Regions from separate parts of the Homo sapiens genome. Here region 1 is linked to region 2. Evidence: fine-mapped expression QTL. A gene starts in region 2. The other region holds a variant in brackets. All regions are shown on one strand. Distances are between the middles of the regions.

The links. PIP is the estimated chance that this variant, and not a neighbour inherited with it, causes the effect.
Region 1: its variant is fine-mapped to the expression of SLC9A3-OT1 in whole blood (TOPMed, PIP 0.98).

Annotation. Positions count from the first base shown.
Region 1 is chr5:587,750-596,659 of GRCh38, reverse strand. No RefSeq gene overlaps it. Among named protein-coding and RNA genes, the nearest start is that of CEP72-DT, 20 kb to the left of the region's middle. The variant C/T (reference allele first, on the strand shown) is at 4,338.
Region 2 is chr5:467,803-476,186 of GRCh38, reverse strand. SLC9A3-OT1 (SLC9A3 3' UTR overlapping transcript 1) reads left to right here and starts at 3,222. Exons shown (of 2, transcript NR_024158.1): 1 at 3,222-3,508; 2 at 4,222-5,677. SLC9A3 (solute carrier family 9 member A3) reads left to right here. Exons shown (of 17, transcript NM_004174.4): 14 at 95-167; 15 at 516-626; 16 at 1,055-1,304; 17 at 2,805-5,731. The coding sequence ends at 2,808. SLC9A3-AS1 (SLC9A3 antisense RNA 1) reads right to left here and starts at 2,951. Exons shown (of 7, transcript NR_125375.1): 1 at 2,788-2,951; 2 at 868-1,050. RefSeq lists enhancers at 419-1,059, 2,987-3,627, 3,628-4,270 and silencers at 2,244-3,063, 3,184-3,253, 3,614-3,743.

The DNA.
Region 1 (8,910 bases), 120 kb before region 2:
TGCAAGAAGTCATATGAGGGGGTCCGATTCAATAGGACTTATGTCCTTACAAGAAGATGGAAAGAAGCCAGGAATCATTCACTCTCCACACCAGCACAAAAAAATACCATGTGAGAACACTGAGAAGTCAACCCCAACAGCCTTCATCTTGGTCCTCCAGCTTCCAGAATGGTGAGAAAACAAATTTTTGCCCTTTAAGGCCCCAGTCTGTGGTATTTTGACATGGCAGCCCTAACCAACTGAGATGGGAATGTTGGGGTCACCAATTCCAGTATGGAGCTGCCTGTTCCCTTTCAGGCAGCTCTATCGTCTTTGTCTTGTGTGTTTGGAAGCCCTATCGTTGGGTGCATATGTGTTTAGGATTACTAGGTCTTCTTGGGGAGTTGATCCTTTGTCATTATGCAACGTCCCTCTTTACTCTTAGGAATTTTCCTTGCTCTGAAATCTACTTTGTCACTCCAGTTTTTTTAATTGGTGTTTGCTTGGCATATCTTTTTCTATCCTTTTATGTTTAATCTGCCTATATTTTGTATTTAAAGAGGGTTTTTATAGACAGCCTGTAGATAAGACTTGCCTTTATCCAGTCTGATAATTTCTGCCTTTAATCAGTATGTTTAGATCATCTACATTTATATTCATTACTGATGTGTCTGAATTTAGGTCCAGCATTTCTTGCATGTCCTCTATTTGGCACCTCTGATTTTTTCTCCTTTTCCCCTTTGCATGTCTTCTTTTGGATTATTGGGATATTTTGTGGTATTTCATTTTGATTTATCTAATGGTTTCTTGAATTCTATCTCTGTGTATTGTCATTCTAAGGATTGCAATATACATTCTAACTCCTCCTCACCTTGCCAGTCTATGCAGAATTAATATTTTACCACTTCTGGCTGGAATGCTGGGACCTTGTCCCCACCAAGGCCCCTTCACTGTGCCCTTTGTCACAGTCATCGTATTGCACCTGCACATATTGAAAATTCAACCAAGCAATGTTGTTAATTGTTGCTTTCAACCATCATATGTACTTTAAAGACTCATCTACATGCTGTCTACAAGAAACTCATTTTCAATGTAATGATACAGACTGTTTCACAGTCAAAGGATGGGAAAAGAGCTATCAGGCCAACATCAGTTACACAAAAATCCTCAAACAGCTCTATTCATGTGAGACAAAATAGATTCAGAGCAAGAAAAGTCACTTGGGGTAAAGAGGAGAACAATAGTGTGCTGTGTTTCCTTGGACATTTACTGCTTGTCTTGCCCTTTCTTCCTTCTTGGGGTTGTGGGTTTTCCTCTGTATCTTCCCTCAAGCTGAAGAACTTGCTTTGGCATCTTTTAAAGCAGGTGTGCCGGCAACAAATTCTCTTAGTGCGTCCTCACTGGAGATCATCAATTTTTCTTTCATTTCCGAAGGGTGTTCTCGCGTCGATTTTTCCTTCGTTTCCGAAGGGTGTTCTCGCATCGATTTTTCTTTCGTTTCCGAAGGGTGTTCTCGCGTCGACTTTTCTTCATTTCTGAAGGGTGTTCTCGCGTCGATTTTTCCTTCATTTCCGAAGGGTGTTCTCACGTCGACTTTTCCTTCATTTCCGAAGGGTGTTCTCACGTTGATTTTTCATTTCTGAAGGGTGTTCTCGCATCGATTTTTCCTTCGTTTCCAAAGGGTGTTCTCGCATTGATTTTTCCTTCATTTCTGAAGGGTATTCTCGTGTTGATTTTTAATTCATTTCTGAAGGGTATTTTCGGTCGATTTTTTCATTTCTGAAGGGTATTCTTGCATCGATTTTTCCTCCATTTCTGAAATTCTCACAGATGCACAACTCTGGCTTGGTGCTTCCTTTGGTTTCTTGTTTTCAATGTTCTTCCACATCCTGGTCTGCACAGCATCTGATGAGAAACTGCAGCCGGGATTATTGTGCCCTGTAGGGGATGTGTCATTTCTGTCTGACTGCTTCTCTGGAACTAATTAAATAAGTTAAACCAGTGCTTTTTCTCCAGGAAACACTTGGACACCTGTCTTTTATCACCTACTTGTCACTGTGGGAAACTCAGCTCTCAGCCCAGGGGGTAAAGCAGATGTTGACAGGTGGTTGGAAATCAATTGCCCTCCTTGGCTGACATGAGCCCCAGGGAGCATGTTGACTAATCAGTGGCCTTTGGGGAAAGAGCAGTATCAGGTCCAGAGAGAGGGAACCATCCCCAGTGTATCCAAAAGAGGAAGCACACTGTTGTGGGTACGATTGAGTTCCCCCTCAGAAGGTATGTCCAAATCCCAACACCCAGTGCCTTATTTGGAAATCAGGTCTTTGCAGATGTCATTAAATAAGATGAGGTCACACTGGACTGGAGTGAGCCTAATGATGACACCCTTATAAGAGAGAGAAATTTGGACACACAGACACACAGAGAAGGAAGGCCAGCATAGTGTGATGTTGTCACAAGCCAGGGACAACCCAGAATTGTGGACAACACCAGAAAGGGAAAGAGGCAAGGAAAGTTCCTCCCTGGAGCCTTTGGAGGGTGCATGGTCCTGTGGACACCTTGAATTACACGTCTCATCTCTGAAACAGTGACAGAATACACTTCCAGTGTTTCCAGCCATGCGGTGTGCAATAATTTGTTACAGAAGTCCTAGGAAACACGTACACACACCTTTTCTTTGTGTATTTAGCCTCTTTGTCCTTAAATCCCATAAGTCTGCTTTGGCCAAAGATGCAGGTCCCCACTTCTTGGCCGTAAAGAGAAGGTTTCCCTGGCCTGGCCACATTGCTTTTTGGTTCAGCCTCATTGCTGACTTAGGGACAACAGGAACTTATCCCCAGGAGAGGTTCTGAGGGAAGCAAGAGGCTCTGTAGCCTCTTGCCAGGGGCCCGGCGTCTCTTCAGTATGGACAGAATTGAACAAGTGAATGGCCTGCTCCTGAGTCCCACTGGCTAAATTAGGGGTCGGGCTTTGCTTTCCACCCCGAGTGTGAGTGCAGCAGCCAGGCTCCCCATCACAGCACAGGGTGGCACATGGATGGGGCAGTGCCTCTTCCACAGGAATGCCAGCAAAGCCACATCCTGAGGCCATAAGGTGGCTCCAGTGGTCAGTAAAGATCTGGCCTCGGCAACGTGTGGGACTCGTGGGACATGTCACGGAACAGAGTGTCTAATGGCAACAGGCTGGGCTGTGACTTCTGCCCTGGGCCAGGGACATGCACAGTGTGTCTTTTTGTTTTTGTTGTTGTTTTTGAGACGGAGTCTCGCTGTCACCCAGGCTGGAGTGCAGTGGTGTAATCTCAGCTCACTACAAACTCCACCTACCTGGTTCAAGTGATCCTCCTGCCTCAGCCTCCTGAGTAGCTGGAATTACAGGCACACGCCACCACACCTGGCTAATTTTTGTATTTTTAGTAGAGACGGGGTTTCACCATGATGGCCAGGCTGGTCTCAAACTCCTGACCTCAGGTGATCCACCTACATCGGCCACCCAAAGTGCTGGGATTATAAGTGTGAGCCACCGCACATGGCCCACAGTGCATCTTTAAATATTAAACAGGAAAAGAAATCAACCCAGGAAATTCCACTTCCAAAAATGGAAGTCTAGATCACCTATACCCCCCCAGATGCCAAGGATAACTGGAAAACTTGGACAAAATAGAACCATATCTGCTTGAAGGCACTGGAAACCAACCAAGTAGTGTAGACACGCCTGGCTGGCACCCAAGAGAAATGCGACTGTAGGTGGGTGAGCCTGGGATCTGGGTGTAGACAAGCCCGGCTGGCAGCCAAGAGAAATGCGATTGTAGGTGGGTGAGCCTGGGATCTGGGGACATGCCTTCTGTGGGCCATGCCAATTTCAGGAGCAGTGGCTAAAAATCAGTGCCATCCTTTTGAAAGTACTTTGGGGTCGGGGGACAAGTGTTGGCACAAAGACCCAGGAGGAATAAAGTTTCTGCTCTGTATCCCCTGCTTGGGAAGAGAACCTATATAGCTCTTCATGGGGATAAAAGGTAAACTGAGGTCAACCAGCCTGCCAGGGGCCGCAGCCCAACTCCAAGTCATCTGGGAACTCCAGGACCCCCCTGTCCCTGATCCTGGGTTACAGTGTTCCCAGACCAATGGTGTGTCCAGGTGGGGAGGCACAAAGCCTTAAAACTCTGCTTACTTTCTCAGCTGGGAAGCAGATAGCCTGGGGCAGGTTTGCAGCCCTGCTCACCCACTGCCCGGAGACAGACTTTGTGCTGTTGGGAGTGGGGGCGAATGGCAGGAGTGAGACTGGCCTTGCTGGCTGTGTGGGAGTGGGGTGAAGCCTGTAACTGCCTGCTTCCCCACACTTCCCTGGCGACCTGTATGACA[C/T]AGCAGAGGCAGCCATAATCCCTCTGGGAACATAACTCCATTGACCAGGGAACCACGCCCCATCTCCTACAGCAGCTGCAGCAAGCCCCACCCAAGGAGAGGCTGAGTTCGGACATGCCTAACCCTGCCCCCACCTGGTGGTCTTTCTCTACCTGTCCTGGTAGCTGAAGACAAAGGACATAATCTCCTGGGGGCTCTAGGGCAAGCTTGTATCTTCTCTATAAAACCTCAGCTGATGCACTCTTGAAAGCACCACCTCCTGGCTGGAGGCCAACCTATACCAAACCAGCGCACTTAACAACGCTACCACCAAGGACCCTCAGAGTCCACTTCACTCCCCTGACACCTCCACCAGAGCAGGTGCTGGTATCCATGGCTGAGAGACCTGAAGACAGAGCACGTCACAGGACTCTGTGCAGACACTCCCCTGTACCAGCCTGGAGCCCAGTAGCTCCACTGGGTGGCTAGACCAAGAAGAGCAAAACAATTACTGCAGTTCGGCCCTCAGGAAGCCCCATCGCTAGAGGAAGGGGGAGAGCACCACCTCAAGGGAACACCCTGTGGGACAAAAGAATCTGAACAGCAGCCCTTGAGACCCAGATCTTCCCTCTGACATAGTCTACCAAATGAGAAGGAAGCAGAAAAACAATTCCAGTAATATGACAAAACAACATTCTTTAGTACCCCCAAAAGTGCATGCTAGCTCACCAGCAATGGATCCAAACCAATAAGAAATCCCTGAAGTGCCAGAAAAAGAATTCAAAAGGTCTATTATTAAGCTAATCAAGGAGTTACTAGAGAAAGGTGAAGTCCAACTAATGAAATTTTTAAAAAATGATACAAGATTTGAAGGGAAAAATCTCCAGTGAAATAGATAACATAAATAGAAATCCACATGTTAGACACACTGTAGTGAACTACAGAAAACCAAAATAAAAATAAACATCATAAAAGCAACCAGCATACAAAGTAAGATTACTTTAGAAGGAGCAAAAATTTGATAGACATCCAACTTCTCAGCAGAAACAATGGAAGCCAGAGGACAATGCAATAAAATCTTTAAATGGTGTAAGAAACAAAAAATAACTCCCAGTCTAGGATATTACTCCAAGTAAAAATATCATTCAAGAACAAAGTTAAAATAAAGCTATTTTTATAACAAAGACAAAAGAAAACAAAACTGAGAGAACCACAAAGATGCTGGCAAAGCAGTAGGGGGAAGAAAACGATCTTTTCAGAAAATGGTCAGTTTTACGTCTCCTCCCGTGGAGACATGGATGAAATGCAACCTCCACCTGTCATGGGCCCCCCCTCTGAGCCCCAAGACAACAGCTAAAGCTGGCAGGTACCCCTCCTCAGAGGTCTTGATTTTAAAATAGTAGTAGTTCCAATATTTCCCCTTTGTTCCTCCAGCCACAGGTGTAGTAGCTTCCTCTAGTAGCCTCTACCTTCAAGATATCTTTCAGTTGCCTGCTAAACTCCAAGCCTGGTTAACAATCCTTCATTTCAGTTTTCTGTGTTTAAATAATTGCTGTGGTTTCTGTCTCTTGATTGTGCCCTCACTGGTATGTGGGGTTCATGACAACCTGTCATTGACTAAAATGGCAATCTATATTTTCCAATATAAATAATATATTCATGACAACACATCAACATTCTTAATAAGAAAATTCTTTTAGGATACCAGGGGAACATATCTAATTATACCTAACACTCCCTTGTTTGGTGACAGGAAACTCTGGAATTTTATGGAAAATACTATGACCATGATTCATTAACTTATTTAAAAAGCATTTATCACCCTAAGAATATTTTTGGACTCTTAAAGGCAAGGATTGTGCTTTTTCCTTTGGAATTTTGTGGACTAAAATAGAAATGGGAATTAGAGACAAAAATCCTGATAACAACTCTATCACTAGCTAATTATGTCTTGTATCTTGGGCAAGTCTCTGTCCCTCTCATTTAGGCAAGTTCCTTCCACAGCAAAATTGGAAAATTAAACAGTGTAATTGTTCAGGTCTTGTCAGATACATGACTTTTTGCTATAGCATTCAACACATTAGAAATACATCAGGCAGCCAGTAAATGTTTACAACAGAAGTGATATGGTTTGGCTGTGTCCCCACCTAAATCTCATCTTGAATTGTAGTTCCCATAATCCCCACATGTCATGGGAGGGACCTGGTGGGAAGTCATTGAATCATGGGGACAGTTACCCTCATGCTGTTCTCATGATAGTGAGTGATTTTCACAAGATCTGATGGTTTTACAAAGGGCTTCCCCCTTCACTCTGCACTTCTTCTTGCTGCTGCCATGTGAAGAAGGACATGTTTGCTTCCCCTTCCACCATGATTGTAAGTTTCCTGAGGCCTCCTCAGCCTTGTGAAACTGTGAGTCAATTAAACCTCTTTCCTTCATAAATTACCAAGTCTCAGGCAGTTCTTTATAGCAGCATGAGAACAAACCACTACAAGAGGAAGTGCATTTGAATATGCCCACTTTGGTGCTAGCAGCCTCCATGGTGCCACAACCTGACCATGCCTCCCTGGCTCCTGGTATTCACTTCTCATCACACTAGGTTGGACCCAGGCCAAATGACAGTGGCAGATGTTGTGGGTGTCACCTCTGAGATCAGGCTGTGGAAGACCACGGCTCCATTCCAAGTGCTCACTCTCACATCACTGGCTCTAGGAGATACTTAAGGAGAGCAACTATTAGGTTGGTGCAAAAGTAATTGCAGTTTTTGTGATTACTTTCAATATTTTAATAGCACCTCCTGCCAAACTCATTTGAGAGACCTTGAAAGCAGATCTGCAGCCCCAGTTGAGCCTTCAAATTACCACAGCCCCAGGCATGAGCTTGACAGCAGCCATGTGACAGCCCCTGAGACAGAACCACCCAACTCACCACTCCCAGCTTCCTCACCCACAGAAACTGTGAGATGATGAGTGCTTGTTGCTCAAGCTGCTAAGCTGTGGGGATTTGTTACACAGCCATGGATAATGGATACACTTCTCAATGGGATGGTTAGGGTGCAGCCAAGGTGGAGGCGTGAACTATGTGGGCAGCTGATGCCTTCCTCTCCCTCTTGCATTTGAATGATGGTTTGGGACCTTCTGTCTTCAAAGCCAAAATGTGTTCCTGATCACATTATTTATGGCTTAGCAAGGCAATGGTGTCACTGCAAGACAAGGACATAGATCACAGCGTCCTGAAATTGGGACAACACCTGGCTCGAATTCACGGTTGAGAAAGCATCTGCTGAGCCTGGCACTTCTGAGGATGCCTTCCTGGAAGCTTCAGTGTCAGACAGTGTGGAGTTATGCTTTTTCTCTTTCGGGGCAGAAAATTCCAGAGCTGGTGAGCTGCAGGATGAGCCCCCAATGTTCTGACGGTTGTGGGCATGGCAGGTGCCAAGAATAACGCACACCCTCCGCATTACAGCCTGGATGGGCTGTGGGTCCATTGCCACCCCAGAGCTGCTGCTCACAGAATGAGGCACAGCCTGGGCTCTGCTCTGCACCTGTGCCGGGAGCAGCCTGGGGCATTCTGTGGATTTGGGGATAGGTATGATTCCTTGTTCATTTTTATTTCAAGGTTATAGACTGAAAACATCATCATCATTTCTGACCCTAATGCCTCGACAGACACAGAAGGCCTCACACCTCTGCCCTCCCCCAAAGATGTCACGGGAAACGTCAACAGAACATCCTTGTCACCACTTCATTTTCACCCACACAGCATTTTGACGTGTTGCAGAAACACAGCACAGCACTGGCAGGTGTTCTGCAGGAAGACACGTGTGTGAATAATGTGTCCATAAAAACAATGTAAAACAATTGACAAAAATGACAATTAGTATCAGGAGGCTTGGCCGCTGGGGGAAGATGTAAAACCAGGCTAGAATCTCAGCTGTACCCACCGCTGTGCTCTGGGGCAACTCACGGGAGCATGTTCTCCACCAATTTGCGATGGAATGAGGTCATTACTGGACACGATGGCTGCAAGACAACGCTTCCATATTTCCCATAACAGCCATGTCTGCTGCCTGACAAATGTTGGAAGGACAGACAGGCCGAGACCGGAGGGGTCTGTGCCACACCCCGGACTCCCACCCTCTTAATAAATCCAGGGCTTGGTTTTCACTGCTTTGTCTGGATGAGCCAATCAGCAAGGGATGCACCTGAGCCTCTGTGTGAACTGTGCAGAGCTCTGCATGCAAGACCACTATGGAATACGCCACTTCCATGCATGGAACACACAACTTCCACATATGGAACACATCACCTCCAGGCATGGAACATGCCACCTCCAGGCATGGAACACACCACCTCCACATGTGGAACACAGATCCTCCACATATGGAACACACCACCTCCTGGCATGGAACATGCAACCTCCACATATAGAACACACCACCTCCTGGCATGGAACATGCAACCTCCACATATGGAACATGCCATCTCCACGTATGGAACACGCCATCTCCACACATAAAACACACCACCTCCACGCATGGAACATGCCACCTCCACGTATGGAACACACCAACTCCATGTGTCAGGGCCTGCTC
Region 2 (8,384 bases):
CAGGAGGCTTGGCGGGGCTGGGGCCTGGAGCGGGGGCAGTCAGGGCTGGGTGTGGCTGTGTCGGGGTGTGAGCAGCTTCACGTTTGCTCCGCAGAGAAACAGCAGCATCCCCAATGGGAAGCTGCCCATGGAGAGCCCTGCGCAGAATTTCACCATCAAGGAGAAAGGTGCGCTGGGGGCCCTGCAGGAACGCTGGGACTGGGAGCCACCACCTCCCAGCCCCAGCCCTCCCGGCTCGGGAACCTCCCCTCTCAGGACCTTCCCCTCTGGGGACCCTCCAGCCACCCAGGCAGGGGAGGCATGGTCAGGGCCCCAGCTGCAGACCCACCCAGGATGGGGTTCCAGGGACACTGCCCTCTAAGTGGGGTCCCTCCTCCAGCCCTGCGGTTTAGCCCTCCTCTCTGTGGGTCCCGACTGCCTGCACCTCTGTGCACAGAGCTGATGGACACTGCTGACTGGGCTGTGAGGACAGCCCCCCAGTGACCCCAGTCCTCACCCCAACCTGTCTTCCCCAGACTTGGAACTTTCAGACACCGAGGAGCCCCCCAACTATGATGAGGAGATGAGTGGGGGGATCGAGTTCCTGGCTAGTGTCACCAAGGACACAGCGTCCGACTCCCCTGCAGGTGGGGACGGGGCACAGGCGTCGTGGCTAAGGGAGGGGTGGCTCCTGCCGCCCCAGGAGGGAGCTCGGTCATTGGACCAGGGGCACTGGGACCTGGGGGGGTGGGGTCTCCTGTGGGTTCTCAAGGGCCCTGCTTGGCACCCACTGAGTGCCCCCTCAACCAACTCGGAGGCTGCTGTCCGGGGAGACGTGGGCCGGGCAGGGAGCAGGTGGGGTATGTCTTGAGGGAAGCGAGACGTTACCTGTGCTGCCTGTGGCGTGTGGGGTCATGGATGTGGGGGAAGGGCCCGCAACCTGAAAGGCACGTGACCCTAACCTTCCCGGTGACCCTAACTTTCCAAGGCACCCAGCAGGTGACGGCCCCGGCGAGGTCTCCCCTGCCGCCGTGGGGCTCTCCGAAGGCTGACTAGCCGCTGCCCTCTCTCCTAGGAATTGACAACCCTGTGTTTTCTCCGGACGAGGCCCTGGACCGCAGCCTCCTGGCCAGGCTGCCGCCCTGGCTGTCTCCCGGGGAGACGGTGGTCCCCTCGCAGAGGGCCCGCACGCAGATTCCCTACTCTCCCGGCACCTTCTGCCGCCTGATGCCCTTCCGCCTCAGCAGCAAGTCCGTGGACTCCTTCCTGCAGGCAGACGGCCCCGAGGAGCGGCCCCCCGCCGCCCTCCCCGAGTCCACACACATGTAACGCTCCCGGGCCTCCCGCCGCCTAACCCCTCTCCGCAGCTCCTCTCCCTCCAGGTCTCCGCCTCGCGCGCGCTGTCTCTCTCCCTCCCCGCCTAACCCCTCTCCGCAGCTCCTCTCCCTCCAGGTCTCCGCCTCGCGCGCGCTGTCTCTCTCCTCCCTGGACCTGAACCTGGCTCGCTCTCTCTCTCCCCGCCTAACCCCTCTCCGCAGCTCCTCTCCCTCCAGGTCTCCGCCTCGCGCGCGCTGTCTCTCTCCTCCCTGGACCTGAACCTGGCTCTCTCCCTCCCCGCCTAACCCCTCTCCGCAGCTCCTCTCCCTCCAGGTCTCCGCCTCGCGCGCGCTGTCTCTCTCCTCCCTGGACCTGAACCTGGCTCGCTCTCTCTCTCTCCCCGCCTAACCCCTCTCCGCAGCTCCTCTCCTCCAGGTCTCCGCCTCGCGCGCGCTGTCTCTCTCCTCCCTGGACCTGAACCTGGTTCTCTCTCTCCCTCCCCGCCTAACCCCTCTCCGCAGCTCCTCTCCCTCCAGGTCTCCGCCTCGCGCGCGCTGTCTCTCTCCTCCCTGGACCTGAACCTGGCTCGCTCTCTCTCTCTCCCCGCCTAACCCCTCTCCGCAGCTCCTCTCCTCCAGGTCTCCGCCTCGCGCGCGCTGTCTCTCTCCTCCCTGGACCGGAACCTGGTTCTCTCTCTCCCTCCCCGCCTAACCCCTCTCCGCAGCTCCTCTCCCTCCAGGTCTCCGCCTCGCGCGCTCGCTCTCTCTCCTCCCTGGACCTGAACCTGGCGCGCTCTCTCTCTCCAGCAGCCCCTCTTCCTCCTCTAGCGCCCTGCTGGCCGCACCTCCCTCAGGAGCCCGGACAGAGATACTCTGGCGTCTCTGCTGCTCCCACGGAGCTGAGGGCACTAGGGCCGCCTGAGATTTCCTTTAGGTGGCTCCGAAAGCTAGTCCGCGAGTCCAAATCCTGCGCTCCCAGGGAGCTGAGAGCAGGGCTGGGGGAAGCCAGACAGACGCCCCGGGTCCCCGACCCTCTCACAGGGATACAGGGAGGGCCGGCCCCGCAGACCCGGACTCTGCCTCCAGCTCAGAGCAGGGAGAGGGGCGGGCCGTGGGGTCTGGGCTTTCTGAGCTCCCTCTGGGGGCCTGGGAGGCACCCGGGGGACGCCAGGGCGGTTTGAGATGGAGGAAGCAGGTCCCCTTGGGGACCTTGACCTCCCGCGCTGCAGGGCCTGGGGCGGGACCTTCCTGCGCCGAGGAGGCCGCTGTCCCGGGACCCCCGGCGGGGGGACGTGGCGGGGCCGGGCTGGGGCTTCGCTGTTGCTGCTTCCGCCTCTGCCCCGCGAACCCGGGTCCTGGGAGGAGGCCCCAGCGGACGCCGAGCCTGGGGTGCGCCGCGGGAGGGGAGGCGAGAGCCGCCGGGCTCGGGGACAGCTGAGGCCCCCGGGGACGCCCCTCCCGCCCCAGCGCCCGGGCTCCGCGCGCCGCTCACGCCTTCCTCTCCCGCAGGTGACACCGGCTCCGACACGCCGCTAACCGGCCGCTCGTCCCCGCGCCACGGTCCGCCCACCGCCGCCGCCGCTGTCCCAGAGAAACCCCAGATCCCCGCGCGGCTACAGCGACCGCGAGCCCCGAGCCCCGCCTCGCCCACGCCAGCGCCTGCGCAGAACTCCGAGAGTGCCGCGCCTGCGCCCGCAGAGCCGCCCGAGGGCGAGCCGGGGGCGGGGCCTGCGCCGGGGGCGGGGCCGGAGCGCCGAGGGCTGCCGAGTGCGCACGCGCGTTCGGCGGCGGCGCGCCGCGTGCACAGCCGGCGCTCGTTCCAGCGGCCTCGCGCGCGCCGCCGCCCCGCGCTGCTGAAGCTGGCGTCGCTGCCGCCCTCGTGCCACGCACCGCCGCACGCGCTGGAGCAGGAGGAGACGCCGCTGTGACGCCGCCGGCGGGAAGGGTCCGCGCGCCATGGCTGGCCGCTCGCGCCCTTTCCCACCGCTGCCGGGAAACCGAGGCTCGCCCCAAACGGATTTGCGTGAAACCAGCCCAAGGTTCCGGGCCCCCCCAACCGAGCCCCGCGCCCGGGGACTGACTCGGGGACCGACTCAGGGACCTCCCGAGCGCCAGGACTCAGGGCCCGACCTGCAGCGGCTGCAGGCCCAGCGCCCGCAAGCGGCCTGGGCCGAGCGCCGTTTCCAGGCCCTCGCCAGGTCTTTGAACTGCAGGTAAAGTGGCAGGAACGTCTTCCGTCTGCTCAGCGTTTGGGGATTTAGACTCCTAAAGCCAGTACCTGCCCCGTTTCCCCCCCAGGTTCCGTCCTGCCCGCGCCCGGTCTCAGGGTGGCGGCCCCGGACACGGCCCGTCCCCACAGACGAGGTCTCCGGCCTGAGCTGTCGCACCTGGCGCGGAGGTCGCCCGGGGTGCCCTGGCTGGGTGAGAGGTGGCCTGGCGGGCGGAGCTTGCCAAGAATCACGGCCAGTCCTTAAGTGGATGGTGGGGCCCAGCAGCTGCTCTGTCCCCCTTAACAAACCAGGGGGCATGGAGGGGCCCAGGGCACCGCCCCCCTACCAGGCTCAGGCCCTCCAAGGAGAACCTGCTGAGACCCCTGAGCCTGTCCTAGACCCCGGACCCCTGACCCTTCCCACCCCTTCCAGCGTCCCAGGGCGAGGCCTTGGACAGAGCTCCTGGTCCTCTGCAGGGAGACCATCCAGCCCAAGCTCTGGGAGGCACAGTCCATTGAGTGGGCGGAGGCCGCGGGTGCTGAGCCGGGGAGGGTGCTCGGAGTCCATCCATCCCTCAGACGGCAAGTCCCACAGGGTCCAACCCACCTGAAACCTGCCTGCACGGTGGAAGTGGTGGAGGTGGACACTCCTAGGGGCTTTTCTAAAGCTAGACTCGCAGCTCCTTGCTCAGGAAAATTAAACTATTCACGTTTCAGATCAAGTGTTGACAGTCACCAGTCAGGAGGAGTTCTTAAAGAGTTTTATGTTGACTGAATATTGCACATTGAGTCCCCATTGAGTCCCTGGTGGGAAAAGTCCACAATTTCCCATTGATAGCTTTTTACTGTTGTGAAAAAGGGAAGCGTCAGCCACACAAAAGCCTGCATGACCGCTGCTTCGGAGAAGCTCTCGACCCTAACTGCAGTCACTGTTACTTGGATCAGATCAAGCGCAGTGACTTTTTGGGATTCAGTGGTTATTCTCCACACTTCGTAGCCATTTCAACCAACTCTGAGCACAAAATGCAGCCATCCTCTATGCAGCAAGCCCTGCCCAGTCAGTGACCCTACTGGACAGATCCAAGGCCAGCCCTGGTTCCCTGCTGCAGCCACCGTCCTGACGTTCATCGGAGCAGGCCGGGGCCTGGCCTTCCCGGCACAAGTGGCTGTTCTGACAGGCCCCCAGTTTGTCCCATCTGAACTGCTGGGAGGTTTCCGGGTGGCCAGAGGAGCAAAGCTGCCTTCCAAGTGCCTGTCTGTGCCTGGGAGAACAGAGCAGGAGCGTCGTGCGGTCCACCGCGCAATGCATGGCGATTCCAGGCGCTGAACAACTCCCCTGGACCCTTGGGCCTGCATCTGACTCCCAGCTGCAGAGTCAGAAGCTGAGTCCAGGCAACTGCTTGGCCACTCCCGATCGCTCCTCCCTGGACACCCGGTTACCAAAGTCAGCAAAGAAGATGCGGTAATCGCCGCCTGATCTCCACATGGTGAACACAACACTCCCACCAACACCTCCTTGACTGGTCGGTCTTCAGCACCGGGGGTGGGCAGGCAGGTGTTCTGTGTTGACGAGAATTGCACAGGCTAAACACAAACACGGAACCAGAGTGAGAACACCTCACTCACGGCAGCCCAGGCTGCTCCCTACCAGGTGACGGAGCGCGCCGGGGCTGTGGGTGCCAGGGGCTGAGTGCTAGGGACTCGTCATGAGTGGGGATCCCCACGTTCCTGTCACTGCTGTCAAACAGAAGGTAAACAGTCTTATGAATGTATTTCCTTAGGAAAACTTGTAAAAACTTTTATTAGGATATCTATTTAATACTGAACTTTGGCCTACTTTGTGATAGACTATAAACAAATTGAGGAAATCACTATTTCTCACTTCTGTATTTTCTCAAAAATAATTTTGTTACAGAGTTCAATATACTGTGTACCATTGATCTTCTATTGTGAAAGCAAAGAATTTCATCAAAATATTTTAAATTATGAGTGAAAATTGTGTATGTTAATTTTGCAGCTATAATATTAATCAAATTTCGTGTAATTCTAATCACAAAATGACGTGCCTTAAGTGCCCCTCCAGCTGTGGGTTGGCAGTGTCCAGACAGGGAGGGCCCATCACCGAAATCCTGAACGATTACTAGACCAATTCTATTAAAAACATTTCAAGGCATTTTGGGTGCAAACTTTGTTTATAAAAGAGAAATATCCACCTATGAGAATTTAAGGAGACGTCTCCTGTAGGCAGACATCGCTCTGCCCAAAAATTAGCACTGACACATGCGTGTGTGTGCGCGTTGTGTGCGTGTGTGCGTGCACGTGCTGTTGCTGCCCTTCCTAGCTGGTGTGAGGAAGCCACTGGACACAGCTGTGGCGCGACCCCTGGATCTGAGCACAGCCCCTCCGGTGCAGACAGATGGGGTCAGAGCCCCCTGCGGAGGCCTGTCATTGCAGGCACCCGTGAGGAGGATGTGACCAGTGACCGTGGGTCCCAGCGGTGACCCTCACACAGAATCAGAGCAAAACACCAGTGAGGGCTGCACACTCACCACCATTCGCCCTGGGCACTCATTCCAGAAGTAACAAGAATTCCCTCTCAGTGGGAAAATAAATGCATTTTTCATTCTTATAAGGGACACTCTAATGACTGTGAACACTACGAATTCTAATTCATATGCATTTACTGAGCACTTACTGTATGCCAGGTGCACTCAAGACCTGCTGCTAAGTGGGAAGCTGGGTTCAGAGGCACATGGAACAGCTCGCCCGCTGGATGCCCTGGGAAGAGCTACCTCTTCTGAGCCCCTGATGCTTGTTAAGAGCTGCTTCTACTTCTCAGTTACTTCTCAAGTTTTGATTCTTTCAAGAAGTCCCATTTGTGAATTTTTCACATCTTGTGAGGATGAAATAAAAGCAAAATGTCAACTCTGCCATCTCAAAAACGTCTTGAGAGCAAAGCGTGTCCTCAGGCTGGAGTACCTGCGGCCCATGGGCAGCCATGGGAGGCCCTCACAGGAACAGATGGCCCCGCTGACACCCCCACCTCTCCCACCTGCACTGCACGGGGCCCACGGGCCAGCCTTGTGGGGTACTCACAGGAACAGATGGGTCTGCTGACACTCCCACCTCTCCCACCTGCACTGCATGGGGCCCGTGGGCCAGCCTTGTGAGGTCCTCACAGGGACAGAAGGGCCCGCTGACACCCCCGCCTCTCCCACCTGCACTGCCTGGGGCCCATGGGCCAGTCTTGTGGGGTCCTCACAGGGACAGAAGGGCCCGCTGACACCCCCACCTCGCCCATCTGCGAGTCCCTGGGGCTCTGAGACAGACAGGGATGGAGGGAACGAAGCGCTGTATACACAGGCGAGAGGAGGAATGAAGGTCAATGCCTTTCACTCACTCAACCAAATCAATACTTTTCTGTAAATTAAGAGAGCACAGGGGTCTGCCCCTCTGAGCACCAGGACCCAGGACTCCCTGCTCATCCTGGGTAATTCCCCCCTTCCTTTGAGACGGAGTCTCGCTCCGTTGCCCAGGCTGGAGTGCAGTGGTGAAATCTCGGCTCACTGCAACCTCCGCCTCCGGGGTTCAAGCAATTCTGCCTCAGCCTCCCAAGTAGCTGGAATTACAGGCATGCACCACCACACCTGGCTAATTTTTGTATTTTTAGTAGAGATGGGGTTTCACCATGTTGGCCAGGCTGGTCTTTGCAAACTCCTGATCTCAAATGATCCACCCACCTTGGCCTCCCAAAGTGTTGGGATTACAGGCGTGAGCCACTGCGCCCGGCCTCCGGGGTAATGCCTTGATTAGCTTTGGAAAAAAATTAAAGATTAACGTGCAAAATGATGCTACCATTGAAGGCAGATGCTGTAGAGAGATGGGTACATTTTAGAAAAGAGAATTTAAAGGATTCTCTATCAGGGAAAGCATGATTCGCGGGTCTTGAAGTGTACTCCAAGTAAATATTCACTTTCATATTTACTTTTACCAAAATTTACACTCCTGCCATTGCTCGTCTACCAGGTATGGCTGACTTGGCTGGCAACACCCGGTGCCAGAGGTCTGCTCACCTGGGGGTGGGGACAGGGCTTGCTGGGTGCAGCTGGTGTCTCATCTCTCAAAGGACCCAAGGAGTAACTCTGGGGATGTCAAACAGGAGGGGACCAGGAGGGCACCCTCCAGGCTGAGGGGATGTCAGACAGGAGGGGACCAGGAGGGCGCCCTCCAGGCTGAGGGGATGTCAGACAGGAGGGGACCAGGAGGGCGCCCTCCAGGCTGAGGGGATGTCAGACAGGAGGGGACCAGGAGGGCGCCCTCCAGGCTGAGGGGATGTCAGACAGGAGGGGACCAGGAGGGCGCCCTCCAGGCTGAGGGGATGTCAGATACGAGGGGACCAGGAGGGCGCCCTCCAGGCTGAGGGGATGTCAGATACGAGGGGACCAGGAGGGCGCCCTCCAGGCTGAGGGGATGTCAGATACGAGGGGACCAGGAGGGCGCCCTCCAGGCTGAGGGGATGTCAGACAGGAGGGGATCAGGAGGGCGCCCTCCAGGCTGAGGGGATGTCAGACAGGAGGGGACCAGGAGGGCGCCCTCCAGGCTGAGGGGATGTCAGATACGAGGGGACCAGGAGGGCGCCCTCCAGGCTGAGGGGATGTCAGACAGGAGGGGATCAGGAGGGCGCCCTCCAGGCTGAGGGGATGTCAGACAGGAGGGGACCAGGAGGGCGCCCTCCAGGCTGAGGGGATGTCAGATACGAGGGGACCAGGAGGGCGCCCTCCAGGCTGAGGGGATGTCAGACATGAGGGGATCAGGAGGGCGCCCTCTAGGCTGAGGGGATGTCAGACATGAGGGGACCAGGAGGGCACCCTCTAGGCTGA